3 linked regions of the Homo sapiens genome follow. The protein of the gene in region 1 purifies or fractionates together with the protein of each later gene. This does not show direct contact. Each region holds a gene or a part of one and is shown in the gene's direction. Other genes may lie near its edges. The genes, in order: PTPN18, TIPRL and CTSB.

What was found.
Region 2: the proteins of PTPN18 (region 1) and TIPRL purify together in Homo sapiens (affinity purification with mass spectrometry; one large-scale study listed by BioGRID and IntAct). This does not show direct contact.
Region 3: the proteins of PTPN18 (region 1) and CTSB purify together in Homo sapiens (affinity purification with mass spectrometry, with the first as the bait; one large-scale study listed by BioGRID). This does not show direct contact.

What each region holds. Positions count from the first base shown.
Region 1 is NC_000002.12:130,362,543-130,366,197, forward strand, and holds part of PTPN18 (tyrosine-protein phosphatase non-receptor type 18), read left to right. Parts: intron 1-3,655. UniProt on the Homo sapiens protein: Differentially dephosphorylate autophosphorylated tyrosine kinases which are known to be overexpressed in tumor tissues.
Region 2 is NC_000001.11:168,181,912-168,185,566, forward strand, and holds part of TIPRL (TIP41-like protein), read left to right. Parts: intron 1-1,990; coding exon 1,991-2,170; intron 2,171-2,867; coding exon 2,868-2,967; intron 2,968-3,655. UniProt on the Homo sapiens protein: May be a allosteric regulator of serine/threonine-protein phosphatase 2A (PP2A). Isoform 1 inhibits catalytic activity of the PP2A(D) core complex in vitro. The PP2A(C):TIPRL complex does not show phosphatase activity.
Region 3 is NC_000008.11:11,850,966-11,854,620, reverse strand, and holds part of CTSB (cathepsin B isoform 1 preproprotein), read left to right. Parts: intron 1-1,141; 5' UTR 1,142-1,166; coding exon 1,167-1,292; intron 1,293-1,925; coding exon 1,926-2,011; intron 2,012-3,640; coding exon 3,641-3,655. UniProt on the Homo sapiens protein: Thiol protease which is believed to participate in intracellular degradation and turnover of proteins. Cleaves matrix extracellular phosphoglycoprotein MEPE. Involved in the solubilization of cross-linked TG/thyroglobulin in the thyroid follicle lumen.

The sequences.
Region 1 (3,655 bases):
TCTATAGTCAAATAATATTCTACATTTCATGTAAAATGTCAGAACTTTACTGTAGTATATTTCGATTACCCCTTTCCATGCTTTGTGCTATTGTTACTATATATTATAGTTCTATATATAAAATATACTCCACAGTACACTGCTATTATAGTTGTTTTAGAATATCTTTTTAAACAGCTTTATTGATATACAATTCAGTCATTTAAAGTGTACAGTTCCATCATTTTTCTATATTCCTGAGCTATGCAACTATTACCACAGTAAGATTTTTGTTTTTGTTTTTGTTTTTGTTTTTGAGACGGAGCCTCGCTCTGTCCTCCAGGCTGGAGTGCAATGGCGCGATCTCAGCTCGCTGCAACCTCCGCCTCCCGGGTCCACGCCATTCTCCTGCCTCAGCCTCCCGAGTAGCTAGGACTACAGGCGCCTGCCACCACGCCCGGCTAATTTTTTGTATTTTTAGTAGAGACGGGGTTTCACCGTGTTAGCCAGGATGGTCTCAATCTCCTGACCTCGTGATCCGCCCACCTCAGCCTCCCAAAGTGCTGGGATTACAGGCATGAGCCACCGTGCCCGGCCTACCACAATAAGTTTTTGAACATTTTCATCATTCCATAAAAAAATCCAGGCCAGACATGGTGGCTCATGCCTGTAATCCCAGCACTTTGGGAGGCTGAGACTGGTGGATCACGAGGTCAGGAGATCAAGACCATCCTGGCCAACATAGTGAAACCCCGTCTCTACTAAAAATACAAACATTAGCTGGGCATGGTGGCATGTGCCTGTAATCCCAGCAACTCGGGAGGCTGAGGCAGAAGAATAGCTTGAACCAGGGAGTTGGAGGTTGCAGTGAGCTGAGATTGTGCCACTACACTGCAGCCTGGCCACAGAGCAAGACTGTCTCTCAAAAAAAAAGAAAAAGAAAAGAAATCCTATATCCATTAGCAGTCACTCCCCATTTCCCAGCAACCTCTACAGCCCCAGACAATCCCTAATCTATTTTTGCCTTTATACATTTGCTTACTTTGGACATTTCATATAATTGAATCACATAATATGTAGCCTTTTTTTGCTTAGCATTTTTGTTTTGTTTTGTTTTGTTTGCTGAATACTATTCCATTGAATGGATCTACCACATTTTACTTATTGGTTGACAGAAATTGGGTTCTTTCTACTTTTTGGCTATTATGAACAGTGCTGCTATCAACACTGATATACAAGTCTCTGTGTAGATGTGGGTTTTCATGTCTCTTGGGTATTGCTGGGAATTGCTGGGCTATATGGAAACTCTATTTTTAACATTTTGAGGAAGTGCCAAACTGTTTTCCACAGTGGCAGCATCATTTTACATTTCCACGGCAATGTTTGAGGGTCCCCATTTCTTCTCCCTGATGCTTGTTACTGTCTTTTTTTTTTTTTTAATTATAGCCATCCTAGGGGTTGTGAAGTGGTATGCCATTGTGTCTTTCTTTAAATTATGTGGTAAAATATACATAACATAAAATTTGCCAGTTTATAGGTGCTGTGAGGAATGTTAAAAATAATTTTGCCATTTAAACCATTTCAAGTGTACAATTCAATTGAATTAAGTACATTCACAATGGATTAACCATTCCTACTGTCTATTTTCAGAACATGTTCATCATCCCAAACAGAAATTCTGTATTCATTAAACAATAACTCCCCATTCCCCCATTTCCAGGTAACCTCTATTCTCCTTTCTGTCCCTATGAATTTGCCTATTCTAGGTACCTCATGCAAGTGGAATCAGGAATACACTAATATACAATACTTGTCCTTTTTTCAAGGTTCATCCATGTTGCAGTGTGTATCAGAATTTCACTGTTTTCAAGGCCAAATAATATTTCATTGTATGTATATATCACATTTTGTTTATCCATTCGCCTGTTGGACATCTGGGTTGTTTGTACCTTTTGACTATTGTAAATAAGGCGGCTACAAACATTGGTATACAGGCTGGACACAGTGGCTCACGCCTGTAATCCCAGCACTTTGGGAGGCCGAAGCAGGCAGATCACGAGGTCAGGAGATCGAGACCAGCCTGGCTAACACGATGAAATCCCACCTCTACTAAAAATACAAAAAATTAGCCAGGCGTGGTGGCAGCCGCCTGTAGTCCCAGCTACTCGGGAGGCTGAGGCAAGAGAATGGTGTGAACCCATGAGGCGGAGCTTGCAGTGAGCCGAGATCGCACCACCGCACTCCAGCCTGGGCGACAGAGCGAGACTCCGTCTCAAAACAACAACAACAACAACAACAAAAAATTGGTATACTAGTATCTGTTTGAATCCCTGTTTTCAGTTCCCTGGGTATACACCTAGCATGGAATTGCTGGATCATATGATAACGCTATGTTCAACATTTTGTTTTCCACAGTGGCTGTACCATTTTACGTTCCCATCAGCAGAGAGAGAGAGAGGGAGGGAGGGACATGTGTAGTTTAATGACAGGGATATGGTCTGCATTGTTAAGACTATCTTGTCATTGTGTAAACATCATAGAGTATACTTACACAAACATAGATAGTATATACATTTTTTATTTATATATTTTTCATATGGAAAACCAAATGTCCCAGCACCATTACTGAGTATCAATCATTTCCCCAACTTAATATGCAGTGTCAATATCAAGTGCCATGTATCAGGTTTCTACATATGCTCCATTATAATCTATGGCACCACCATTGTATATGTGGTCTGTTGTTAACCAAAACATCATTATGTGGCATATGACAATGACATATATGCCATCCTAATGAGTGGGAAGTGGTACCTCATTGTGGTTTTGGTTTTCATGTGCTTATTCGTCCATTTGTATATCTTCTCTGGCCAAATGTCTATTCATGTCATTTATTCATTTTAAAATTGGGCTATTTGGGGTTGTCTTTTTATTATTGAGTTGTAAGCGTTATTCTGTATATAAGTCCCTTATCAGTACATGATTTAAAATGTCTTTCCCATTCTGTGGGTTGTCATTCCACTTTCTTGATGGTGTGTTTTGAAGCACAAACATTTTGTGAAACTTTAATTCCAATCTATTGTGTTGCTGTGCTTTTGGTGTATCTGAGAAGTCATTGTCTAATCAGAGGTCATAAAGACTTACTCCTGTTCTTCCTTCTAAGTGTTTTATAGTTTTCTTGCTTACAGTTAGGTCTCAGATTTACTTTGAATGAACTTTTGTATGTGATGTGAGATAGGGGTCCACATTCACTCTTTTGCATGTGACTATCCAGTTGTTCCAGCACCATTTGTTGAAAAGACTATGCTTTGCCCATTGAACCGTCTTGGCCCCTTTGTTGAAAATTAATTGGCCATAAATATAAGGGTTTATTTCTGAACTCTCAATTTTATTAAGCTGATTGATGTGTTTATCCTTGTGCCAGTGTAACATAGTTTTGATTATTATACCTTTGTAGAAGTTCTGAAATCAGGAAGTATGAGTCTTCCAAATTTGTTCTTTTTTCCAAGATTGTTTTGGCTATTTTGGGTAGGTCCCCTGCTGTGCAGAAGAGTTAAACATGGCAAGCATAAATGTTTATGCTTAGAAAGGCCTTCCTGTAAGGTTGACTCTTGGGTGGCCTCTAGAAACCTAGGTTTCTGATAACAGTGGCTCACTATGCCTGAACTGTTAATAC
Region 2 (3,655 bases), on another chromosome or scaffold:
AAATTATCTGGGGGTGGTGGTGCAGGCCTGTAATCCCAGCTACTCTGAAGGCTGAGGCACGAGAATCACTTGAACTTGGGAGGTAGAGGTTGCAGTACGCTGAGATCGTGCCACTGTGCTCCAGCCTGGATGACAGAGTAAGACTCCGTCCCCCACCCTCCGCCAAAAAAAAAAAAATGCCTTTTTTTATATGACAAAAGGAAGACTTACCCTCACCAATCCCAAATTTTTCTGTGATGCATTATCATAGATTGTAAAAACCACTAAGGTGCTAAATAAATTGGTTGGGTAAAATATTGGATTAAAGAAGCTCTTCTAATGAATATTTAAGGCACCTTAAAACCACAGGAGCTTCCTGTCTTCTCTCCTTGTAACTAGTTATACCTGTTTTTAAGTGGGAAGCTTGATGATGTTAGAAATAGGGCATTTTCAGGCCGGGCGCGGTGACTCACGCCTGTAATCCCAGCATTTTGGGAGACCGAGGCAGGTGGATCACCTGAGGTCAGGAGTTCGAGACCAGCCTGGCCAACATGGTGAAACCCTGTTTCTACTAAAAATACAAAAATTAGCCGGGCATGGTGGCACGTGCCTGTAATCCCAGCTCCTAGGAAGGCTGAAACAGGAGGATTGCTTGAATCTGGGAGGCGGAAGTTGCAGTGAGCCAAGATCGTGCCATTGCACTCCAACCTGGGCAACAGAGCGAGACTCCGTCTCAAAAAAAAAAGAGGGCATTTTGGCCTATGTTTAAGAAACTCTATATTTAGAACACTGAAGGACTGTAAATTAGTAACAGTGATTCTTTTACATATATGAGTGGAATATTTTATAGGACTGCCACATTTTTCCAGATATATTGGTTAGAATCCACAGACTCACATATTATTTCACATTTGGTATGCATTATTCAAGTTAAAACTTATTTTATGGAATCTTATGGAATATATATTCCAATTACAGTTTATTGTATCTAATCTTTTAAGTATTTAATATTTTCTATCTCCTAATAACAAAGAATAAATTTTACTTAAAATTATGATGAAAGTTAACATTGTTAGTCCTGAAGACCATTGTTAACATTGTGCAGTCCTGAAGACCTGCACCTCAAAGTTAGATCACTGATATGTGCACACAGAAATACACGTTTAGATGTAATAAATATACAATGTGTGTCCAGTTTTTTTCTTACTATTTTATCATAAGCATTTTTTCATATTATTATAGTCTCTCTTTAAACATTTGTAATGGTTCCATAATATTTCATCATATGGATATACTTTGGTTTGCATAATCATTTGTTGCTTTATAATGAAACATTCAGAGTATTTCTTTTTCATGATTATAAGTAAAGCCATTATAAGTATTAATGTGTATAATATTTTTCTGTACTTGGAATTATTCTTTAGTACAGGTATTCTAAAACTGATACTTTGGGTCATAAGTGTGTAAATTATGTTAAATTCCTGTGATTTTTTTTTTTTTTTGCTTGATTGTTGCCCCAGGGTGAAATGTAAATTGACACAATCCTTCTGAAAGTCTGTGTAGGCAAGTGCTGAGTTCCCTCATCAGTGTCAGGTGCTTTTGCTTTTTTCATCACCACGTTTTGAAACTTTTAACAATTGAGAATTTTAATGGAAAAATTATTTTCCTACAAGAGACAGTATCTTTAATTGCTTTGCTATCTTTTCTTCATACCCTCATGATATATATTATAGTAATATCTGTGTGCTATATATTATAGTAGTATAATAAGCTATTATATTACGTATTTGTATATTTATCTTATTTAGCCCACTACTTAGTACAGTGCCATATGATGATGAAAGAATGGATGATGAAAGCATTTTATAGACCTTGCAAATATATCATATTGATTAAATCATGTGCTGTGTAACTCATTCAGCAAGTAGGAAGAATTCTGTTGGGATGGAAAAGAAACAAAAATGCCAACAGCGATATAAAATTATCTCACCCGACTTTTGGTTACGTATAGATTAGCCGATGAATTACATATGCCATCTCTCCCTGAAATGATGTTTGGAGACAACGTTTTAAGAATCCAGCATGGGTCTGGCTTTGGAATTGAGTTCAATGCTACAGATGCGTTAAGATGTGTAAACAACTACCAAGGAATGCTTAAAGTGGCCTGTGCTGAAGAGTGGCAAGAAAGCAGGTGAGAATCCGGTCAATTAGGTTAAACAAAAAAGGTAATTAGGTTAAACAAAAGAGAAAAGACTTGAAAAAATATTCAGTAATGATACGTGTGTGTTGTTAGAATGAAGGGCTGGTATTATTAAACTTGAGAGTTGTATCATTCTAGAATTCGTTTTTCTCAGACATAAAAATGGAAGTTAATTACCCCACTGCTTGAATACTTGTTAAAGTGAATTACAACTGAGCTGAGCTATGTACGTTTTCGATTTTTCAGTGTTCCTTACTGAAGAGGCAGTAGGCTATACTTAATGTTCCTGTTTTTAAGAAAAAATGTTTACTTATGATATGCTTAATAAATACCCTATTTGAGAAGCATTGAAATTAAGACAACATGTTTTTCTTTGATAGTCAAATCAGCAATTATTTACTTTGTGCCTAATATGTACTAAGTACCTTAGATGATACAAATAAGTATAAACCTTTAAACCATGTCCTCAGGCTGTATACAGACTAATTGAAAAGACTACATCAGTACATGACAAGTTAAATAATAAATGCAGAAAAACTGTAAGAAAAACCTTGTACTGGTGAATTATAACAAGTGTATATATTTAATAGGATATGTTATTATAGAATATAATTTGATGTGATATATAAATACAGATAATCTCTATTCTGCATCACTGAATCTGATCCTTCTCATTTTGGTATTTGAGGACGGAGGGTGAACACTCCAAAGAGGTTATTAAACCATATGATTGGACCTATACAACAGATTATAAGGGAACCTTACTTGGAGAATCTCTTAAGTTAAAGGTAAATCTTACTTTTTTCTTTCATGAGTCATTGATTGTCTTGGACAGTCTGAGCATTAGAACTTTCTAGTAACGGGTTATTTTTTGCAACTATTTTTATCGTCCTTGTTTTCTGTTGTGGCATTCCTCAGAACCTAATGTGAGGGGGTTTTGCTTGTTGACTTATCAGTAGAAAATAAAAGACGGCATTAGTGGAAAAATTTATTTTTAAAAGTGTAGTTGGTGGCAACGGCAGACGGCCTTGTTGTTATCATTATCACTATCAAGAAACATTAAAATGTGTTTCGGGCCTTGGTAATGTATTACATGATTTAGACAGAACCTGCTAGCTTGTAGCTCACAAGTTTATAGATGAACAAATATATGAGCAAAAAGAACTTCTGGTTAGACAAAGTAGGTTTATGCCCTGTCTGCCCTGAGTATGAACCTGAAATGACTTTAGGAAGTTACTTAATTTGAGTCTCAGTTTTATCAATAAATTGGGTAAACAGAAATATCTACCTCAAAGCAGAGTTTTGATGTGAAATAATTTATGGGAAGCTCTCAATAAATTCTAAAGCTCTATATTAGTATTAAGTCCTGTGTGTGTAAGCCCTGCTTGAGAAGAGATTGGGGCCAGGCGCAGTGGCTCACGCCTGTAATCCCAGCACTTTGAGAGGCCGAGGCAGGCAGATCACGAGGTCAGGAGC
Region 3 (3,655 bases), on another chromosome or scaffold:
TAATCCCAGCTACTTGGGAGGCTAAGAACCTGGGAGGTGGAGGCTGCAGTGAGCCAAGATTGTGCCACTGTACCCCAGACTGGGTGACATGGCCCACAGACCAAGACCCTGTCTCAAAAAAAAAAAAAAAGCTTTTTTCCAGAGCCATCTTGCTGTCCTCATATATTTATTCTCCTAGATGAATTGTTGCTTAAGCAACAATGAAGTTTAAATTGTTCTTCAGATAGAACCCCTAGGTGCCAGGCAGTTTGTTAAGCACTGACACCGCAGTCCTGTGACTTTCATGACGACCTGTGACCTGTGGGAGGTAGAACACCTCACCCACCCGTGGGAGCCCCTGGAGTGACTGACAGGAACCCCTGCCTCACCCAGCTCCCCGCGCCGCGGCTCTCCCCAGCCCTGGATGCAGGCGCCCAGGAGACATGTATTGCTTTTGTTGAGCTGCTCACTTAGGAGGGTGACTCAGAGTTCAAGCTGGAAAGCACTGGCTTGTGACTCATGAGCCAGTGCAAGATCAAACGGCTGGGGCATCGAGGTGAGAGTTTTCCTTCTCAGAAGCCTCATCTCCGCAGCCGGAAGCAGAGCCCTTGGCTGACTGGAAAAACCAGAGAGGCCCCGGGAGTGGGTGGATGGCCAGCCCAGCCCCACCTCTCAGCCTCAACCTCCACCAGCCCACACCGAGCTTGTTTGTCTGTGTCCTGTCGAAACTAGGACTCCTGGATTGTAACTTTTCTTACATTTCCCTGTCCCCTGGGTCCTCCACTTAGGGTGTAATCACACAGACAGGCTCTTAACTGTTTCATATCACTCACTTGGGAAAGTGTCTCAAGCTGTTCTACAAATCCATGCAAAGGCCGTTTAAAAATAGCAGCGAAGGCCCTGGACTCGGTCTCGTCCAGCACAGCCCCTTGGCTCTCTCTCTGGGCTCTGGCCGCCTGGCCCCCGGGGACCCACACGAGGTCATGGCGTGCTTCGGGCAGGGGGGCGGGGATCCCATAGACACCTCAGCTCCTTAAGAGTTCTCCGCCTGGGCCAGGACGAGCATGGGGGTCCCCACTGATGCCCGAGACGGTGCCCCTGTGTGTGTGAGCCCTCGACCCACATAACAGAGAGGTGTCCTGATGCCCTCTGTCCTCTCCAGGTGGATCTAGGATCCGGCTTCCAACATGTGGCAGCTCTGGGCCTCCCTCTGCTGCCTGCTGGTGTTGGCCAATGCCCGGAGCAGGCCCTCTTTCCATCCCCTGTCGGATGAGCTGGTCAACTATGTCAACAAACGGAATACCACGTGGCAGGTAGGCTGTGGGGCTGCGTCCTATGTATGTCCCCTCCCAGGTCGGTCTGTGCACACTGACTCCAGGAATGGGAAGCCAGCCCTCACTGTGGCCCACAGAACATTGTCCTGGACTGTTGAAAAATGGCCCTGACCCTGAGTCATGTCGGCTCTGGACCACGCCTCCCTCCTTTGTCCCATACCCCACGTGTGTGCATGAGTGTGTGTGCATGTGTATGAATATATGGTTGTGTGCACGTGGAGGTGTGTGGGGGAGTAAGTGAGCTTCGGAAGTGTTCAAAACCAGCTAGCCCCTGTGACGCCCGCCGTGGCACAGTGGCAGTTTATCAGTCCCGCCCCTGATTCCCTTTGTCTCTGCCCAGCCCTGACCCTCGGACTGAGAACCAAGAATGAGGAGTGAGCCATGTTGAGGGCTGGAGAGGGTCTCTGATTGTCAGCAAATGGGAGCAGATCAGGGGAGACACCCACTCTGCCCGTGTGTCACTCTGGGCTGTTCCCCAGTGCCCCCCAACCCTTGGGCCCTTGAATTGGGTAGGGTCTCTGGTTTTCCCTGGGTTGGGCTTCGTGTGTGGGCAGCGTGCCCATCCACCGCCATCCCGGGAGACCCTTCAGTCAGTGGGTGACTCTCTTCCAGGCCGGGCACAACTTCTACAACGTGGACATGAGCTACTTGAAGAGGCTATGTGGTACCTTCCTGGGTGGGCCCAAGCCACCCCAGAGGTGAGTGCCTGCTCCTCTGCACCGCTGTAATGTGAGTGGCAGGCGTTGGTTTGGGGCAGTGGGAAGTGGGAGAGTGAAGGCCTCTCTGGCGTCCGCAGGGCTCATGCTGCCCAGGGCTGCCGACACCGCTTGAGGTACAGTACTTGTTTCTTTTCATTTTTATATTACTTTCTCTTTTTATTTTATTTTTTCCTTCTCAAGTTATTAGTAGAGAAGATGCTGGTGCTTTTTTTTGGTTTTTGAGAGAGTCTCACTCTGTCACCCAGGCTGGAGTGCAGTGGCACGATCTTGGCTCACTGCAAACTCTGTCTCCCGGGTTCAAGCGATTCTCATGCCACAGCCTCCTGAGTAGCTGGGGCCACAGGCTTGCACCACCGTGCACGGCTAATATTTGTATTTTTAGTAGAGACTGGGTTTCGCCATACTGGCCAGGCTCGTCTCGAACTCTTGGCCTCAGCAAGTCATCTGCCCAACTCGGCATCCCAGAGTGCTGGGATTACCGGCATGAGCCACCCCCAGTGTTTTCTATTGTGCTTCTCCAAGGTGTCTCAGCCGCAGATGTGACAGACAAGGTCTGGGTCCCCACTATGTGGGCAGACTCAATCTTGAGTAATTTAAGGGAAATCTAAGAAAAGCCAGATGAGGCCAAGTATGGTGGCTCACGCCTGTAATCCCAGCACTTTGGGATGCCAAGGCAAGCGGATCACCTGAGGTCAGGAGTTCGAGACCAGTCTGACCAACATGATGAAACCCCGTCTCTACTAAAAATAAAAAACTTTGCCAGGCGTGGTGGCGGGCGCCTGTAATCCCAGCTACTCGGGAGGCTGAGGCTAGAGAATCGCATGAACCCGGGAGGCAGAGGTTGCGGTGAGCTGAGATGATGCCACTTCCCACGTGAGGATGGGGTAGTTAAGTTGCACGACACTGCCTTCTGCACAATGGGGATGATATGAGAAATGATGAGAGGATCCTGGGCAGAGGTTGAGGCAGGAGAGCAGGGCAAGAAACACTATCTGGACTGAATAAACTTATTTAAAAATGAGTTTATAATTTGTGGATAAATTCATCTTAAAAAATCCATTACATAAGCCTAGAAAGAAGCGTACAATATCGCAAGTCAGGCCAGGTGTGGTGGATCATGCCTGTAATCCCAGCACTTTGGGAGGCCAAGGCAGGCAGATCATTTGAAGCCAGGAGTTTAAGACCAGCCTGGCCAACATGGTGAAACCCTGTCTTTACTAAAAATACAAAAATTAGCCGGGTGTGGTGGTGCATGCCTGTAATCCCAGCTACTCAGGAGGCTGAGGCACGAGAATCGATTGAACTCAGGAGGCAGAGGTTGCAGTGGGCAGAGATCTCGCCACTGCACTCCAGCCTGGATGACACAGTGAAATTCTGTCCACTCCCACCCTCCCGTCCCACCCAAAAAAAAAATCAAAAGGTGCATTGAGCAACAGAATTTCCTTTTGTTTTATGAAATTACCAAGGACACCTGTCTGCAGCCTTCTTCGGCATGTCTTGTGCTCATTTCCTTGTTAGGGGAGTGTGGCCCAGCCAAAGTGGCCTTTGCAGGGATTGGGGAGGGAGTTGTGGGATCAGAGCTTGTAATGAAGACCTTCCTTTATCCAGAGTTATGTTTACCGA